2 linked regions of the Homo sapiens genome follow. The protein of the gene in region 1 interacts with the protein of each later gene in a pairwise test. Each region holds a gene or a part of one and is shown on either strand. Other genes may lie near its edges. The genes, in order: GCH1 and GIT2.

Region 1 (3,818 bases):
TAAAGAAATAAAAGGGATTGTGCAGAAGCGTTTATGGACCTAAAGATGTGGGTTCCCACTCACTCCTATCTCCCACCAGTATCCTTCCTTCTCCCTGCCATCCAGGTTGGTCCAAGACCCCACCACATTTCAGGTTCATTCCTTTAAGTTCAGCATCATCCTTGTTCTCACTACTCTGTCTTCTCTTTAATTATATATCTCTTTAAAAAAAAAAAAGAAATATTAAATCCTTAAACAGATCCCCTAGATACAGGCTTTCAAACTTTTGACTACAACCTACAGTAAGAAATGCATTTTACATCTGGAGCCAGTGCACACACACACAATTATGCCTATAAAACCTACATAGAAGTTTCTCGGCCGGGAGCGGTGGCTCACGCCTGTAATCCCAGCACTTTGGGAGGCCGAGGCGGGCGGATCACAAAGTCAGGAGATCAAGACCATCCTGGCTAACACGGTGAAACCCCATCTCTACTAAAAAAATACAAAAAAAAAAAATTAGCCGGGTGTGGTAGCGGGCGCCTGTAATCCCAGCTACTCAGGAGGCTGAGGCAGGAGAATGGTGTGAACCGGGAGACCGAGCTTGCAGTGAGCCCAGATCGCGCCACTGCACTCCAGCCTGGGCTACAGAGTGAGACTTCATCTCAAAAAAAAAAAAAACAAAAGAAGAAGTTTCTCAAAACACTTGTCCTTACTATATGTGATAGACTGATCTTATCCATTCTACTCCACTTTTTGTTTTTTTTTTTTTTTTTTGAGATGGAGTCTTGCTCTGTCGCCAGGCTGGAGTGCAGTGGCACAATCTCGGCTCACTGCAACCTCCGCCTCCCGGGTTCAAGTGATTCTCCTGCCTCAGCCTCCCAAGTAGCTGGGACTACAGGCACGCACCACCACACCCAGCTAATTTTTGTATTTTTAGTAGAGACGGGGTTCTTGATCTCTTGACCTCGTTATTTGCCCACCTCAGCCTCCCAAAGTGCTGGGATTACAGACTTGAGCCCCCGTGCCCAACCTCTACTCACTTTTTTTTTCTGAGACTGAGTTTCGCTCTTGTTGCCCAGGCTGGAGTGCAATGGTGCAATCTTGGCTCACTGCAATTTCCGCCTCCTGGGTTCAAGCAATTCTCCTGCTTCAGCCTCCCAAGTAGCTGGGATTACAGGCATGCACCACCACACCTGGCTAATTTTTGTATTTTTAGTAGAGAAGGGGTTTCTCCATGTTAGTCAGGTTGGTCTCGAACTCCCAACCTCAGGTGATCCACCCGCCTCGGCCTCCCAAAGTGCTGGGATTACAGGCGTGAGCCACCGCGCCCGGCTACTCCACTTTTTTTTTTAATGCTGTTGACCCAATTCACAGTTTGAAATATACAGATAGGGTACACTGATTCAGTTCTCTCTGTAGCAGTATAAGGAAGTGGCTAAGAATTCTGCAGTCAGACTCTCTGGATTCAAATACCAGCTCTACTACTTGTGTCAACCTCTCTGCCTCAGTTGCCTTGTCATGGGGATAAGAGAAATGTTTACTTGAAAACTGGAAGATGAACCAAGACCATCCAACGTAAAGCTTTTAACCCATTAAAAAGTACGGTCATGCATTGCTTAACAATGGGGATACATTCTGAGAAACACCTGAGAAATGCAGTTTCATATCGCAAACACTGAAGGAAGAGAGTGCTAACACAAACCTAGATGAGATAGCCTATTACACACCTAGGCTACACGGTAGAGCCTATTATTCCTAGGCTACAAACCTGTATGGCATGTTACTGTAATGAATGCTGCAGGCAACTGTAACACAATGGTATTTGTGTATTTAAAGATATGTAGGCCAGGTGGGATAGCTCATGCCTGTAATCCCAGCACTTTGGGAGACCAAGAGGAGAGGATCACTTGAGCCCAGGAGTTCGAGACCAGCCTGGGCAAAACAGTGAGACCCTGCCTCTATATTTAAAATACAAATAATAATAATTTTAGAAAGACATCTAAACATAGAAAAGGTACAGTAAAAATATAGTAGAAAAGACTTAAGATGGTATGTCTGTGTAGGGCACTTACCATGAAAGGAGCTTGCAGGATTGGAAGTTGCTCTGGGTGAGTCAGTGAATGCATGGTAAGTGAATGTGAAGGCCTAGGACATTACTGTACACTACTGTAAACTTTATAAACACTGTACACTTGGGCTACACTAAACATATTTTTTCTTCAATAATTTCAGCTTAATGTATTTAAAACTTTGACTCTTTTGTAATAACACAGCTTAAAACAAAAACACATTGTACAGCTGTGCAAAAATATTTTATATCCTTGTTCTATACCTTTTTCTATTTTTAATTTTAATTTTTATTTTTATTTATTTATTTACTGTTGAGACGGAGTCTCACTCTGTCAACCAGGCTGCAGTGCATTGGTGCAATCTCGGCTCACTGCAACCTCCACCTTCTGGGTTCAAGTGATTCTCCTGCCTCAGCCTTCCAAGTAGCTGTGACTACAGGTATGCGCCACCACATCTGGCTAATTTTTACATGTTTAGTAGAGATGGGGTTTCAACATGTTGGCCAGGCTGGTCTCTTTCTAACTCCTAACCTCAAGTAATCCGCCCACCTTGGCCTCCCAAAGTGCTGGGATTACAGGTGTGAGCCACCATGCCTGGCCCAATTTTCTTAATTTTTAAATTTTGTTAAAAACTAAGACATGGGGGAGACGAGAGGAAAAAACTAAGACACAAACAAACACATTACTCTAGGCCTACACAGGTCAGGATCACCAAGACATCACCAGACAATGTGAATTTTTCAGCTCCATTGTAATCTTATAAACCACCTTCATACATGTGGTCCATCATTGAAGGAAACATCATAATGTAATGCATGATTATATTCAATTAATGGCTTATAATAATCTTAAATGGGCTGGGTATGGTGGCTCACACCTGTAATCCTAGCACTCTGGGAAGCCAAGGCAGGCAGATCCCTTGAGCTCAGGAGTTCAAGACCAGCCCGGGCAACATGGCAAAAACCCGTCTCTATCAAAAATACAAAAATTAGCAGGGCATGGTGGCACAAGCCTGTAGTTCCAGCTATTCAGGAGGCTGAGGTGGGATCACTTGAGTCCAGCAGAGTGAGACTGCAGTGAGCCGAGATTGCGCCACTGCACTCCAGCCTAGGCAGCAGAGCCAAACCCTGTCTCAAAAACATGAAAATAAACATAATAATAATAATCTTAAATGGTCCGCTCCATGGACTTTTCTTTTCTGAAACAGGGTCTCCCCACGTTGCCCAGGCTGTTCTCCTGAGCAACAACTATCCTCCTGCCTCAGCCTCCCTAGTAGCTGGGACTGCAGGCACGCCACAAAACCTGTCTTTATATTGTGGTAAAATATATATAAAATTGGTCATTTTTAGCCATCTTGAAGTTACAATCCAGTGGCATTCACAATATTGTGCAACTATCACCACTCTCTAGTTCCAGAACATTTTCATGACTCCAAAAGGAAGCTCCAAAGGAAGCTCCATACTCATTAAACAATCACTACCCATCCCCCTCTTCTCGCCAGTCCCTGACAACTACTAATCTTGCAGTGTCTCTACATCCATGGACTTTTTTTTTTTTTGAAATGGAGTTTAGTTCTTGTTGCCCAGGCTGGAGTGTAATGGTGCGATCTCGGCTCACTGCAACCTCCGCCTCCAGGGTTCAAATGATTCTCCTACCTCAGCTTCCTGAGTAGCTGGGATTACAGGCACCTGACACCATGCCCGGCTAATTTTTGTATTTTTGGTAGAGAATGGGTTTTCCCATGTTGGCCAGGCTGGTCTCGAACTC
Region 2 (3,818 bases), on another chromosome or scaffold:
GGAGGGAATGGCAAAGGCCCAGTGCAAACCCCACCTTGCCTGTAAAGGTGGTCCCTTACCCACAGCCACCTTCCTCCTCTTACCTTACATTACCCTTCCATTAAAAAAGAGATGGAGCCAGAACTGGGACGTGGATTTCAAAGCCTATGCCCTTTCCACGGCTTTCCCAGGTTGTGGTCATGTACCACTCTTTATGCATGAAAGTATTTTTTAATTGACAGTGCCTTTGGGAGCAGGGGCTGTGCCAGCTAAGTCCTTAGGACCCTTTCATTGACTTACCCAAACGCTGTGTATGGAGGAGGTGCTTAATACTTACTGCCTGACTACTCTAAAAGAGGCTTACCTGAATCATGCACTGCTATTGAGACCATAAATTATACACCAGTAGGTGAGGTTTAACCAACCCGTACAAGTGAACAGCTTTAGGTTAACAGCTGCTTGCATAGCTCCAATGCCACAAGGTGTTACAATTCTGATTCAAGATGCAGGGACTTGTAAACCTTGGTTTGTCAGCACTTGTGGTGCTGACATAAAATGTGTCACAGGTTAAAAAAAAAAAAAAAGGCATGACATTTTAGTACTTCAGCGAGTCCACATACAGCAGTTTCAATCTGACAACTGTAGCCCTGAACAAATTGAACAAATTTGGCCTATTATAATATCTAACCAGCAGCCAGCTAATTTTCTCGTTGTTTAAAAAAACAGTTTGCTCAGAATAAATGCTGTAGGGTGATTTGCAAACTTTGTTAAATATGACGTGAACATGAGCAGTATGGGGTTAGAGAAAGGGAGGCGCCCTCGATGGGTGAGCGTGCATGTGGACGAGTGTGAGCCTGATGCACTGTGAGAAACCAGGAGGAAGTGCTGCCTCATGCAGGACGGAAGGGCAGTTAGCAGGGACAGGAGGGCCAGAGCCCAAGCACAAAGCGCCCAGGAGCACGGCCCCTCCTCCAGAGAGCAGACCATTCAGAATGTACTTAACCCTTCGGGCGCTTTCGTCCCTCGACCAGGAAAGTGTGGAGGGGAAGGAAGGCAGAGATGAAGAGGAGGTCACAAGTGCACTCCTCCCGATCTGGAATGGGAAAGAGAAACACACTCGGGAAAATACAAAACAAACCAAAAACCTACCACCTTGCCAGCTTCAGTAAAAGAATCCTGGAACACCACACATTATGTGACGTGAGTGCTGCAATCTCAGTGGCCACCAGTGACAGGACCCCAGAGATGCTTAAACCCTTGGTGAAACACCTCCTGGAAATTACTCTGAATTTAATAAGGCTGCTTTTCCATAAGGGAAATACCTAACATAATTTGTCAAACTTGTCAATAATTTTTTAATGGATACTATGAAATGCATATTTGTTTTTCAATCAGGACTGATGTGAAATGAGAAACTATAAAAATGATTCTAAGTTGCTATACACTATCAATCTAATTTTTAGTACAATTACAGTGCCTTCCTGATATATCTTTATATTCTAATTTTTTCTAAAATAAGAAAGTACACTGAAAAATAACAAAGTTGCTTTTCCTAAATTTTGTCTTCAGCTATACAAAAATAAGATTCTTAACTTAGGGTGGGCATGGTAGCTCACACCTGTAATCCTAGCACTTTGGGAGGCTGAGGCGGGCGGATTGCCTGAGCTCAGGAGTTTGAGACCAGCCTGGGCAACATGATGAAACCCCGTCTCTACTAAAACAAAAAAATTAGCCAGGCACAGGACCATGTGCCTGTAGTCCCAGCTACTCAGGAGGCTGAGGCAGGAGAACTGCTTGAACCCAGGAGGTAAAGGTTGCAGTGAGCTGAGATCACACCACTGCACTCCAGCCTGGGTGACAGAGCGAGACTCCATCTCAAAAAAAAAAGATTCTTAACTTAGTTCAGTGGCATTCCCATTACATCAAATGTATCAAATCAATTGCCTTAGAATGTTAAACCCAAATATCTTAAAAAGAATCTGAGATAACAGACTCCCAATTATAGTAAAACAATATTGTAATTTTACCACACTGAAAATTGACAAAATTAAACTAGGGTTTAATTCACGAAACCATGTCCTTGCTTTGCATCTACCTTGAGAATTTTTTTGGAAACTCCCATAAAATTTGACTGAAGAAATAATAAACTTTGACACTCAAAAAGACAAATACTACTCTCTGAAAAAGCATCCCATGAAAAAGTTTAAATGTAACATCTTGGCAAAACACATATTTTTATAATAAAGTAATCCAGAAGAAATATATTTGAAAACCTTATAACACAGTATGTATCCCAATGCAAAATAAGATTGTAAGAACCCTGCTGCAGAACACAATCTCTGGAATTCAGCGCTTCTAAGACTGATGTAGAGTATTACATTTCCTTTTCTGAGACAACAAAGCCACACTTCCCCCACCACGGTGGGAGGAGCAGGATGCAGAAGCGAACCTAGCAGGCACACTGAGCACACATGGAGAGGCTGCGGAAGCCTGGAGCCTTCCAGCCTTGCCTGGGTACCTGGGCCACAGACTCAAGGCCACCTGCTTGAGGAGGAGCTGAAAAGACGTCTTGGATTCTAAGGGCTCCAGTACTTAAAGGGGCACATCCCTGTCTAGCTCCAAGAAGGCAACACTTCCTTCTGAGAGTGAACTTTATGATTTATTTTTGTTTTTGGAAGTAGAGAAGGAAGGAAGCTTTACCAAAAAAAGTTCCAACACTGGCTGGTTGAGAAATAATCATGGATGTGGGGGAGAAAAAAGCAGCAGTTCGGGCAAGAGCCAGAATCCCCAACTTGGTTAGGAAACCATCAGCCCATGGCCCTGTGTGCTTGTGGGAATATCGCAAGCATCTGTGGACATGTTAATACAGCAAACACAATGGTAACTCTCTTAGTCCAATTTGGCAAAGCAGAGCTGTGGGGACCTGTAGGTTCAGAAGAGGGAACAGAGTAGACAGGCTGCATAGAGTGAACAGCAGAAGCGCCAGTGGTGTTACTTACGTGCGCGGGGAAGGGCTGGAGTCTCATCCTGCTCTCTTCGGGGCGGCTCGCTTCTCCCATTGGGAGATATGGTTTCTGACCTGATCCGGTCTCGTACATGGACATGGGCCTACTGCCCCGGGCAGACGGACGTCTCTTTAAGGAAGAGTGGTTGGAAGTGTCTGTGTACTCAGAACCAGTTTGCACCTGATATACATTGGTTGTGGCCTGTTTCCTGAGGTTCGAATTTTCACTCTGGAGTGTTTGAAGCTGAAAGAAATGTTTGGCAGTGGGACTGTGTTTTTTTACAGCAAGCAGAAAAAGCAAACACCAAGTAAATGAATACAACTACCAGTTTTAAACAATAAGGACAGTAACAGCTAGCCGGGCTGAAAGTAAAAAGCCAATACAAACAAGGACCCTTTCTTCTGGATTGGGTGAAACACAATCAACTCCCTTCATCACGTAAGCAAATTAAATAGCTTCATTTCTGAATGTGGAAAAGTTGTGGTTTGGACTTCCTCAAAACAAAATGTCTAACCACTTTAAAATTTGTCATGGTGGGGCTGGGAAATGTTTGCAGGCAAGCTGTACACTGGATTATTACTAAGGCTGTTTCAAGCAAGAGTTCGAGATCATTAAAACATCATTTAGGTAACTTGCTTTTCAAATGAGCCCTGAGCAATTTGTAAAGGCCAAAAATGACAGCAGACACCATGGAAGCAGCACAAAGATGACTAGGGTTGCTTTGCAAAGCAAGAAAGACAGAAGTTCAGCTTGTGAAAAATCAGATCGCCTATTGCTTTCCAAAAAGCCAACAAGAAAAATTATGATCAACAAGTTTTTATTACATAATACTCT

Evidence for each region.
Region 2: the proteins of GCH1 (region 1) and GIT2 interact in a two-hybrid assay, tested with the Homo sapiens proteins (one large-scale study listed by BioGRID and IntAct).

Annotation. Positions count from the first base shown.
Region 1 is NC_000014.9:54,896,273-54,900,090, forward strand, and holds part of GCH1 (GTP cyclohydrolase 1), read right to left. Parts: intron 1-3,818. UniProt on the Homo sapiens protein: Positively regulates nitric oxide synthesis in umbilical vein endothelial cells (HUVECs). May be involved in dopamine synthesis. May modify pain sensitivity and persistence.
Region 2 is NC_000012.12:109,944,278-109,948,095, forward strand, and holds part of GIT2 (ARF GTPase-activating protein GIT2), read right to left. Parts: exon of another isoform or gene 3,228-3,818; coding exon 2,979-3,227; intron 1,073-2,978; coding exon 983-1,072; intron 1-982. UniProt on the Homo sapiens protein: GTPase-activating protein for ADP ribosylation factor family members, including ARF1.